Linked DNA regions of Homo sapiens. The protein of the gene in region 2 purifies or fractionates together with the protein of the main gene of each other region. This does not show direct contact. Each region holds a gene or a part of one and is shown on either strand. Other genes may lie near its edges. The genes, in order: POTEI and NUS1.

Region 1 (7,301 bases), on a different chromosome or scaffold from region 2:
CTGAGCTGGAGACATACATTTGGAAATCACTAGCATATACACAATAGAAAAAGTCACGAGGGGCCGGGTGCAGTGGCTCACACCTGTAATCCCAACACTTTGTGAGGCCAAGGCAGACAGATCACCTGAGATCAGGAGTTTGAGACCAGGCTGGCCAACATGGGGAAATGCTGTCTCTACTAAAAATACAAAAATTAGCCAGGCATGGTGGCACACACCTGTAATGCCAGCTACTCAGGAGGCTGAGGCAGGAGAATCACTTAAACCCAAGAGGCAGAAGTTGTAGTGAGCTGAGATCACACCACTGAACTCCAGCCTGGGGGACAGAGTCAAACTCCGTCTCAAAAAAAGAAAAAGAAAAAGTCAGGAGAAAGAAGATTGAGGACTGAGCCCTGGGAAACAACAATGTCCAAAAGGAGAAAGATGAGGAGGAGCAAGCAAAACAGACCATGATGAATGGACTAGAAATGCAGGAGGAAAAGCTTGAGGGAGTGAGGTCCTGAAAGCCAAGTGAAGACGCCGTTAGGGAGGAGACGCCCTCCACTGGCTCAAATATTGCTGACAGATTAAATAAAATGAGGTGTAAGAAAAAATGCATAATTTACAGAAAAAAAATTGTGATAATCTTGAGGAAAAACAATGTTGGAGGACTGCTGAAATTGAAGACGCCGGTGTGAGATTAAGAGTGAATGAAAAGAAAATTTGAGTTCGTGAGTGTGGACAGTTCTTTTAAGGACATCATGCTTAGGAGTCATGACTGAGAATGTTGTAATTTTCTTCCACAGTCATGGAAAAGTAATAGACAAATAGTTTCAAGTTTTATATAACAGGTGTAGTTTTCAAATTTTATATAACAATAATATATTTTAAAGGTTATAAAAATTATACACATGTGGCATTAAAAATGCCAGACTGAGGTGTTAAATTCTTAAAACTATAGAACTAAAAGTCGCCTTGAACATTTCTAGATTACACATAAGCTGATTATCATTTTATTCATGCTTATGCATAAAGACCAAGAAATACTAAAAGTTTCAAGGAGAGTATTTCTTGCTTGATAAAATCAGCCAATTCTAGGACAACTGATACTCATCAAATATACAAAGTAATTGATCACAGCAAAATACTGGGTTCTATTAACAGGAATAAAGTGGGAGAAATGCAGACAATAATCTTATTTTATAAATGAAATTTTTAAAATTATATGAAGTCACTGTGGAAAAATATGGTGAGGTGAATACTGAAATATATCCTTTTCTCAAAGGAAGGATAATTTCACACACGCAGGGCACTTTTACAAATAAGAGTCACTTCACTTGCAGCACCTTCCTTTTAGCACAAGGGTCAGCAAACTAGCACCTTGGGCCAAATCCAGCCCACTGCCTGTTTTTGTAAGTCAAGTATTTTGGAACACAGCCATGCTTATTCACTTTACAGTCCACAGTGTCAATTAGCTGGGTGTGATGTTGCACACCTATGGTCCCAACTAGTAGAGAGGCTGAGGTGGGAGGATCACTAGAGCTCAGAAAGTCAAGACTGCAGTGAGCCATGATCACACAACTGCACTCCAGCCTGGGAAACAGAGTGAGACCCTGTCTCAAAAATAAATTAATTTATATAGTCCACAAAGCCTAAAATATTTACTAACTGGCTCTTTGCAGAAAAAGCTGGCCAACTCCTGGTTTAGCAGATGAAAGATCCTTTGATACATTTTAATAAAAGTTTTACCCAATATACTGAAACGTTTATATTAAATACAGATCCCCATGTACAATCCCTTGGCAATATTCAGATTGAGGGTCCAATATTTCAGCACTCAGGCACTGACATAAAAATTTAATAACTAGCAATCTTGTTGCTAACAAGGTACAGCATCAATATAGCATGTAGCTTCCATTTGCAACACAGGAAATATTACAAGAATTTTAACAAGAACTCTTAAGATGTCATCACTGATGCTTTAAATACACTTTAATTGTGAAATAATCAGTATACTCTAGATCTAACCTCACTTGTAAAAAATGGTTGCATACTACATTAATTTCTGGGTATGAAAATTGAGCTATTTCCTATTGGTAATGATTTACTTTTGATAATGATAATTTCCTATTGATAAGGATCCATCTTTTTGATATAATAATGCTGTAATAAATGTCCTTATACATAAGTATATATGTAACATCTACACAAATATCCTTTACATATATTATATATCCTTATTGTTATACATGTGTTTGTGAATATGCTACTAAATTAATGTTCAAAATGTATTTACCAGCAGTGTATGAAATGTCTTTTACAATGAAACCATTTCTTTTGCAGCAACACAGATGGAGCTGGAGGCCATTATCCTAAGCAAACTAATGCAGGAACAGAAGATCAAATGCCACATATTCTTACTCATTAGTGGGAACTAAATAATGAGAACTCATGGACACAAAGAGGAGAATAACAGGCACCAGGGTCTACTTGAAGGTGGAGCGTCACGGGAGGGAGACGACCAAAAAACTAACTTTTGGTGTTTTGCTTATTATGTGGCTGATGAAATAATCTGCAGTCCAAATCTCCATGATACACTTTACCTATATAATAACCCTGCACATGTACCCCTGAAACTAAAAGAAAAGTTCACTAAAAAGAAAAGAAAATGCCTTTTCCCTCACATTTGCCAATACTGGTTATTTTTCAAATAAATTAATGCCTGGAAAAATGGTAACTCATTGTTCGCTGATTTTCATTTTTCTGATTAACGGGCAAGGCTGAATATCCTAGTAAAACTATAAAATTTGTTCATCATGAATATTAGCCCAAACTAGGGTTAGTTTGACAGCACATAGTTATCTCCTGTTCAATGTTGCCATAGGCTTACCTGTGATACTCTTCACTTTCGTTGTCAGGAAATTGCTGATTTTCAGGTGTTCTGCTCTTCCTTTGAGGAATTAATCCATCATCACCATTGCCAGCAGTGACACCATTACTCAGGTTTTCTAGTAATCCCACATTATTACTTTCATGCTTCTTCATTTCTTCTTCAACCTTGAGTGGGATATTAAGGATAGTTATCACTTTATTGAATAAAAAGAACCTTTTTAATTGATTCTATCAATTGACTCAGTTTGTCATTATTTTAGTCATTAAAAATATTTCACACTTAAATTTGATCATATATATAGAAATATTACCATATAACTTTAAGATGTAATTATCATATCATTAATATATCACAGAAATTTTTGTAAAGTTTGCTTCATTTCTGTTTCAATGAATGAAACAGAATTTTCCAAAATTCAAAAAGGGCCCTCCTTCATTTTATGCTTTTATTCTCAATCACTCTTCAGAATCTTATGTATGTATTTACCCCATTTGACTCATGGGAACACGCAAATAAAAAGACAAAGATGCAAAATGTGTCTTCTGTCTTTACCACCTAGATTTTACATTAAACAGTCAGATTTAGAGGATGACACACTGTGCGGCTTCAGGAACAGAAAGGAAGTTTGCCCTTTTCTGCGCTAAGATATTCTTCTACCCCACTGCCTTTGAGCATTCTTTTTTCATTTGGTTGCTGGGATATCAAAAACATGATGGTGCTCACTGAAAATGGGAGCCAAAGTTTGCCACAACACAAGAAGCAGAGTGAAACTGCTGACGTGCAAGCATGGAATTCCAGAAAATGAGATGCTCCCCAAATTTCACATTGAATAGCCATACAATTTTCTAGCTGGAAGATACACAGAATAAGAAGCTATCTTCTTTAGCCACATTATCTATTGATAATCAGACTAAAACCAAGAAAGATAAAATGATTGGTCCAAAGCTCCTAAAGTGGCATTACCTAGCATTTTATGGCACCATTCAGGATTGTTCCATAATAATCAAAGAATATCTCTAGGCTTTGTATCTCTTGAAAACTCAAAGTACAGAATTCTTTCTGAGTTAAATATTAACTTTTTCACTCATGATTTATGCTACTTACATGATAGGATCATGTATGCCTACACTTACTACATTTTGTTAAACAACATAATGTAAAAATCTAATTCAACAGAAACATTTGAATATGAAGGTATACCTCTCTATCACCATCCTTATTTATTTCTGGTTCTTGAGACATTTTCTGCAGAGGCAAAAACAGAAGGTTAATTTGCTTGTTGTGTTTCTGTGATGTCTCCTCTTTTGGAGCGCATGTTTTAAAAAAATTTTATTCTTAACTAATGAAGTATGGACGATGAAAAATTAGAAAATAATTAAAATTAAAATTTAACTGTTAAATAAATAATAATTAAAATTAAGAATTAACTTTTTAATCTATGTTTAGCTACTGCCACATTACTGGCTTCTGACTAACATGTGAAAAATAATTCACCTTAGCCCAACGAAGAAAAAAAACGTGAACCAGCAAACTTAACTTGGTCACCATTTGTTTGGACTAAACTTGTTATGTGTTAAATCTACCAAAAATGAATCAGCAGATGATTTGTAGTGTTCCAAAATCTTCCTCACTTGAAAAGAGTTTACCTCATGAAACCCTAACTAGTGAGCCCCTACAGTGCACTGAAGTGCTTTTCTAAAAGATTCCTAACTGGATTGTAGGCACCATTTAAATTATTAGGAGCCGAAATCAACACCAAACAGAAAGAGATGCAATTTCTCAAATTTTAATTGAGATTATATACTGTCATATGATAGTGTTATGTATCCAGATTATCTGCTTAAGTCCAGTTCTAATATATTCTAATGTGTACTAATTACAGTGGATAAAGATTTTTTTAATAATATGTACTAATTTTCTGCAACTGAAATAAATTAGAATGTTATTGTGTTTGTGCACTAACACCAAAGGTTCCATTCTGCAAGATATGATTCTTGTAATAGGCAGCTGTGTTGCTTTTATGACCTGGTTCCCTCCCTGAACAGAAACGCTGAGGTCAATGAGAGACCATAAGGCAGAATATATTTTTAACCTTGGTATCAGTGACTGACAATATAAAACTGCAGATTTTCAATCACTGGCCATGATTACTCCTTAACCATGAATCCAGCTCAGGGACCATCAGAGTTACATTGTTCATAATTCTATTGCTTAATAACATAATCCAATAATTGATGTACCTTCTTCATCATGTTCGGGTGTTGTAAAAATAAAAGAACAAAGTTCTGAAATTTGTTTTTGCCTCTATTCCAAAAGGAAAGATTAGCTATAAGCTAATCAAAAAGGCAGATGAGAATATTTTAAATAAAAATATTATAAAATAAGAGTATTTTAAATTTTATAGTGGTTATGTTTTTTAAGTTAAATATCAAATGTTAAATTAGAATCCATTCTTCTGTTAATGAGATTACTGAATTTATTAAAATAAATTTTAACAATCTATTAAAAAATTCTTTAAAAAATCTATTGATTCTCAAAACCTAGTCTGAAAGGTAATTTCATTTGGACTATCTAATATTATTAAAGCAAAGAAAACAACATTAAATCAAAAATTTAAATTTAAAATTTCCCATGCCTCTGGCTGGCTATTTTCACTGCCTTTGAACCTTTGTGACTCTTCCTCTGATGTCAGCTTTAAGTCTTGTTCTGTTGAGAAATCCATATATTCAGTTAAAATGAACCACTTAGAACAGTTAAAAACTATTGCCTTTATAAAAATAGATTTAAGACAACATTTTATTTCATAAATTGAGTGTTTAGTTTTTCATGAAATAGTTATTTAGGAAATAATTCTCCCAAACTTCAACAAACCACTTGGGGAGACACCTGATGTCATTCACTCACAAATTCATCCACCCAACATAAATGAACAAAACCACCAGAAACACAACTTTAAAATACAGTAGAAACATATAAGGTAACACAGTATGTTGTTCTCCACTTCCTAATAGTGAAGCAGTAAATGTAAAGAAAAGGAAATTTAGTTTTAAAGAGAAACAAGTTTTCCCGCACTTAGCTAGTCTGACTCTAAGGATAGTAACAAGCAGGGCCCAGGAAAGGTCATGGTGACCCTGCCTGAGAAGCCAGAGCCCACAGGTATGGGCTCCAGACATCCCACAGCAAGGTTAAGAAAACAAAATCCTTTACTGTCTCCCCTTCCCCTCAGCATTCACTCAGAGCTGTTTTTACAAATGCATATTATTTGCAAGTTCCTGTTGTCCTTCAATGCAGCTGCAAGGTCATAAGCTACGCTGAGGTTGCAAAACTGTCACTATATGATTAACTGCCTTTGTTCTGCTTCTGTAAGCTTGCCTACATAAGCCAAGCCCTGTCTTTGTTCAGGGCTCAGCTTTCGGATGCAAATCCGCTGAGCTGGTGCGAACCTAAATGAAATCCTCCTGTTTCACCCACTTGGTCTCTCCTGCCTCCTGTTTTCTGCAACAATAGTACCTTACAAATGATTTCAAAAATTACTACTGACACCTTTATTAGTGTACAATCTCTTCCCAATATCTAAAATGTTTCCCTCCACGATTCAGACATATTTATTTTCATTTTTCTTTCTTTTTTTTTTTTTGAGCCAGGGTCTTGCTCTGTCACCAGGCTGGAGTGCAGTGGCGCAATCTCAGCTCACTGCAACCTCTGACACTCCCTGGTTCAAGCGATTCTCCTGTCTCAGTCTCCGGAGAAGCTGGGATTACAGGCATGCACCATCATGCCCTGCTAATTTTCGTGTTTTTAGTAGAGACGGGGTTTCACCATTGGCCATGATGGTCCTGATCTTTTGACCTTGTGATCTGCCTGCTCCAGCCTCCCAAAATGCTGGGATTAGAGGTGTGAGCCACCACACTTATCCTTATTTTTATCTTTTAAAACAATGCTATGAGAACGTCTTCCTTGATTCTGCATGTCTTTCCCCAGATAAACAGGTACCTCCTTCCTTGAGGCTGCCTTAGTACTTCACTGATTTTTCTACTGCATCTTTACCACCTGAACTCTACATTATTCCTCCACATGTCTGTCCCGTCTGCTCCAAGACTGCAGAGGACAGTCTTGCACATCATCTTACTCACATTTTACTCAGAAATTTCTTATTGAGTCCTGCTAAATACATGCTAGGCATTAGGGTTTAAAAACAATTAAAATAAAGCATGTCAGGGATGGCTTTTCTAGAAAACATGCCCAAGCAGAGACTTAAATATTGAGACTAGCCAGATTAAAAGGGGTAGAGGGCAGGAAAGGGTGACGGCATGCCACACAGCAGCAAGAGCGGGAGCGAGGCCTGAAAGAGTGAAAATATTTGCCTACAATAGAAGGATGAGTGAGTAGGGCATTGCCAGCAGCTCAGTAATGCCAGAGAAAGGGCACA
Region 2 (5,060 bases):
TTATACATAGATCTCTAGCTTTGCATTAATCTGAGCTTACGCTTTAACAAGTTATGAATCTCTCATTACTAGTTGCTTTTCTTGTGGAAAAAGAGGCATATTAATTTTTTAGTTGATGATGACATTGTGTGTCCTTGTCATCTCATTGTCCACAATGAGCTGAACAATCTTAGTAGAATTGTTTGGCATATTCTGCTTATAATTTACCCTCAGAGCAGAGGGAATAGCTATCTTCAATGAACACTCGTCAATAAACAGTGAGTGCCACTACCCCTCGGTGCCTCAGAGGCTCTCTGCTATTTCCCAGTCAGTTCTGTCAGGGCCCCACCCTTTCAGTCTACATATTATGATTAAGACATTTTCCGTGCCTGTCATGGTGCTGTCTGGTGGAGGATAATTTGGTGTATTCTATTCTTAACTTCTTTTTGGTCCTTATCTTCTGGTTCCCCCCTACATTACAGTGTATATCTAATTGCTTTTCTCCCCCCGTGTTTTCTTTTCAGCTCTTTGCCTTCCCACCTAAACATCAGTTATGAGGACTTTTTCTCTGCCCTTCGTCAATATGCAGCCTGTGAACAGCGTCTGGGAAAGTAGTGGTCATTGGTTGCATAATTTGATTTGAGGCTTGTGGAGGAAAGGAACCAAGTGACTCTGATGTTTACAAAGCACCTATGAAACCCTGTACACACCTAGTTCATAATCCTCATAATTTATCAACAAACACAAAAAAGTGTCTTACTTGAGAGTGAGTGTGTGTGTGTGCGTGTGCACGTGCACACATGTGCACGTTTGTATGTATGGAAATAAACTTATAAATGGGGACGTATTGGAGAAGGAAATACATAGACCTACAACTTTGAGCAAATAGCAGTGATGTTTTAGGAACTGAAATGTCACACTTAAAGTCTTCAGCCCAGCTACTTCCCTATTTTTGTGGGGAGAAGAGGGCCTGATTAGAACTGTTCTGGTTGTGTTTGGCGGGAGGGGAATAATTTTTGTTCAGTCCTTCTTAGTGACCAAACTTTAATTTTTAAGAATAATATATTGACTTACTGAACTGAAGCATTCTGAGTTGAAAGGAGCTCCAGAGGAGTGGAGTTCTGTGTTGCTCACATGTTAAAATCTTGCTCACCTTCAGAGCAGAGGGAATACCTATCTTCAGATATCCGTCCATTTTCATCTCTTAATTGTAGTCAAAAGTATGACTTGAGAGTGTTGCTCTGGTATTCTGGGTTCTGAAGTCTGGTATTCTGGTATTCTGGGTTCAAAAGTATGACTTGAGAGTGTTGCTCTGGTATTCTGAGAGTTGCTCTGTATTCTGGGTTCTGAAGATTATTTGAAAAATAACTCCTACTACATTGAAATGCAGACTTAAAAATTTAAACATTGGATTAGGCAGTCAAAAAAACCAAGCAAGCATAAAAGGTCAATAAGTTGTAATCTTGATAGTAAAGGTGGAAAACTTATTATAAATGGAAAGAAAGTTTTATTTCCTTTTTTGTTTGATGGGCAGTATGCCATATTATACCCAAAGTTCTTTTAAAAAATATTTCCATCAACCATTTTTATTTAAAATAAACATTTGAGGGAAGTTACCAAGGCAGCTTTTTTCCTCAAAAGTAACCTGTTCCTCTTTGGAATAGCACATTTTAGGGGCATGGTTAATACCTGAGATTTTTACTCAGTAAATCCTGATGGTTACTGTGTGTAAAATATCTTTAAGTAGGATTGAAGGCCTCTGTGGGGGAATAAAATATTACCAAAGTCTATAAAAATAAATTTTACATGTTCTCTTTTATGACAGAGAGCAGCACTGGTTCTGTTATTTTTAAAATGAATAATTGATTTCTTGATAGGTGTTTAATATTTCTTCCCTCACTGCTGATTCTTAGATAGAAACCATTCTTTATATTTGATAGACTGCTTTCAGAAAACCCTTATCAACAAGTGTACAATACTTATCTAAAACTATACATTTAGAATGGAGCAGTTTAATACTAGATCTCAGAAGTTTTGAAAAATAGCAAAGAAGACTGGATTTGGAAAGCATGGTCTACAATTGGTTGTTAAATTCTGAAGCTATGAAGAATAAATGTTTCAACTTTGGATTATGAAACCCCATTTATGATTTTTTAAATACACTTGAAATAAAAATGATTAAACTAAATTTTGGTCCAGTGACATTACTTTGCACTGCATAATCCATTATACGTTGTACGACTTTTTTTTTTTGTTTTAATTTATTACTGAGAGTTTTGTGTGAAGCTACAGCATATCTAACCAGAGAATTTCTGATTCCTTATACTGTGATTATATTATATTGAGGCATTTGTAGTGCAGCTGAAGACTGAATTTATGCCTTTTGTAAACATGATAGGTATAAATGTCTTATAAACATTCTGGAGTATGTATAGCTTTAATGAATGAAATTTAATGGACCTGATTAAAATGAAGGGATTTAATCGTTGTTAAAGTTAAGTTAGTCAAATAAATTACCTACTGGAATATAGCCCAAGCCAGTAAAGGTTTAATATTTGCATTTTCGTGCTTTTATTTTCTCCTTCCATTCATAAGTATATACTTGAAAGTACATCTGTAGCCTATGATTTGAGTCTCTTGAAGTTCTAGGAAGAGGCAAACTACAAACTACTAGGATTCTGATTTCAGATGTAGTCATTCCAGAACCTTCTCTTTATGAGTTCACCTGCTAGTACAATCTCCACAACTTGAATGGCATTGGTTGTTCTGTAATTCCTGCCAAAAGCATCACAAGTTGTACATCATCAAGGCTCCCTTTGCACTCCCAAGAAGAACTGGTAATTTTAAACAAAAGTATGTGTCTTTATTTGTATTGGAAAATACTGTCTTTAAATTGTTTCTTGTTGACACTCCCCACAATGGAAAAATTACCGAATTAAACCTGTTTTATGGATGGCAGCTTGGAGCATAGCAAGAAGTTGGAGGATTTGAATTCCATTCCCAGTTCTCATTGTGTTTTGTTTCTTAAAACTATAATAATCGGTTACTGTTATAAAGTTTAAAAGGTGGTTTTAATGTGAATAGCAAATTCTGGTATATCGTGACTAACGCTTAAGAATGCCTGTCTTTGAGAGGAAGGTGTTATAATATTAATGAACAGTGCCAAATACACTGTGCATATCTGCAATTTAATCTTTGAATGTATGTTACTGGATTAGCTCCCTCCTCCTGTGTGATGGTACCATGCATAGAGTCAATCAAATCCTTGTGATGTTTTGTATGGACTTTGACAATATGTAAATAATGTGTAAAGCCAGTTTTTATGATTAAGGAATCAAATTTATTGAATTTTATTATTGAAAGTTGAAACTTAACATGTATGAACAAAAACCAATAAAAGAATATACTCTTTTCATTGACTATAGTATTATGTGAATGCTACATTTGTTCTGAACACTTAGGGGCTGCAAAAATGTAATAAGAAATGCATATGACTAGATAGCAATAGTGTTTTTTTTAGATGGTATGCTCTTGATTGAAATATATTCTCACTTTTACCAGGTTAAACATTTGGAATCTTATAATGTTACTTGCTTTTTGATAGATAATAGTGAAATAAATTCAGCTTTGCCATTGCTGGAGTTGTCAAAATTCCACAGTAATTAAAATTTGAATTTTTACCGAATATGAAATTTCCAAATTAAAAACGTATATGTGTACTCTTTTAAAAAGGAATTTGATAGTTCTTGTCAAATGAGAAAATTTAAAGGTAAGAGTTATGGTTTGTCTTATGCTGCATAGACTATTCACCTCCTAACTTGAAGGTCTAATCATAAGACAATTGTTTTTTTGTGCATAGTTTTCATCTAAAATTAAGTTTACCAAAGGCAAATAACTGCTTACTAGGAACTTCCTTTAGCAAAAATTACTATAAAGTTCAGGACAGTTTGAAATAAAACCCAGGAAACAAGATTAATGTGAGCAGTTCTCCAAGATCCTAACTGGTGGGACATAAACTATGATGCAATGGATAGGAAAAGGTAGTGCAAAAAGAATTTCTTAAGGTTTAAAAAATACACTTTTCATTATAGGAAAAAGAAGATTCAGAGAAACAAAGGAATGTAACCTTATTGATTACATTTTTGGTGATCACCGAGAATTTTTTGTACTATATTTTAAAAAATGTATTCTACTGTAACAAGTTAATAAAGAGATTTTTTAAAAAACTATAAACTAGAAATTGAGAGTCTTGCATTCTCTTTTGTATTTGATTATTGTGTCTGGATATAAATTACAATAGCACATGAAAATAAAATGTTTTAAAAAATTATAGTCCACATTCAGTTATTCTTAATATTTAATGTTGGCCCAAATTCTTCAAATAATTTTATGCTCATCTCTCCCTCATCTAGTGATTCAAGGACTGTTAAGTGAATTTTAGCATGACGTATCCAGATGATTGCAACAAATAAAATGTACTCTGAGGTCAAACTATTAGCAATATCTGCTATTGACTGTTCATAGTCCCCTTCATTAGTATTAGTAATTTAAGTTGCTGTTACAAGGACAAGAAAAACATCTGGCTTGGAAAAGGCAATCCTGGAAAAAAAGAAAAATTCAGAATATGGATAAATGCTAACAGCATAGTTCTGTCCTTGTATAGAGTAATGTTTCCATTCCGATAAAGATTTATTTCAATTGCTATATCTTATGGATTTGGTTCTATGAGTGCTTTATTTTAATAAATGTGTATTTTTCAGTGTTAATTTATCAGTAACAGCTATACTTAATAAGTGCCTTAAATTTCTTTCTTCTTTTTTTTAGAGATGAGATCTCACTGTATTGCCCAGGCTAGGCTTGAATTCGGTCTCAAGCGATCGTCCCACTTCAGCTTCATGAGTAGCTGGGCTGACAGGTTGTGTGCCACCATGCCAGGCAAATTTTTTATTTTACGTGAAATAGAAGTAGATATAGGTAATGATAATAGTAAGCAACTGTTATCACCATGTATTTTACTTAGATTTCAGACAATTAGAAAATAGGACATTCAGAAAAATGTGGAAGCTACTTACCTGGGGATG

Evidence for each region.
Region 1: the proteins of NUS1 (region 2) and POTEI purify together in Homo sapiens (affinity purification with mass spectrometry; 2 studies listed by BioGRID and IntAct, with this or other methods). This does not show direct contact.

Annotation. Positions count from the first base shown.
Region 1 is NC_000002.12:130,485,163-130,492,463, forward strand, and holds part of POTEI (POTE ankyrin domain family member I), read right to left. Parts: intron 5,579-7,301; coding exon 5,508-5,578; intron 4,118-5,507; coding exon 4,073-4,117; intron 3,037-4,072; coding exon 2,870-3,036; intron 1-2,869.
Region 2 is NC_000006.12:117,706,422-117,711,481, forward strand, and holds the end of NUS1 (dehydrodolichyl diphosphate synthase complex subunit NUS1), read left to right. Parts: intron 1-503; coding exon 504-594; 3' UTR 595-4,306; downstream 4,307-5,060. UniProt on the Homo sapiens protein: With DHDDS, forms the dehydrodolichyl diphosphate synthase (DDS) complex, an essential component of the dolichol monophosphate (Dol-P) biosynthetic machinery.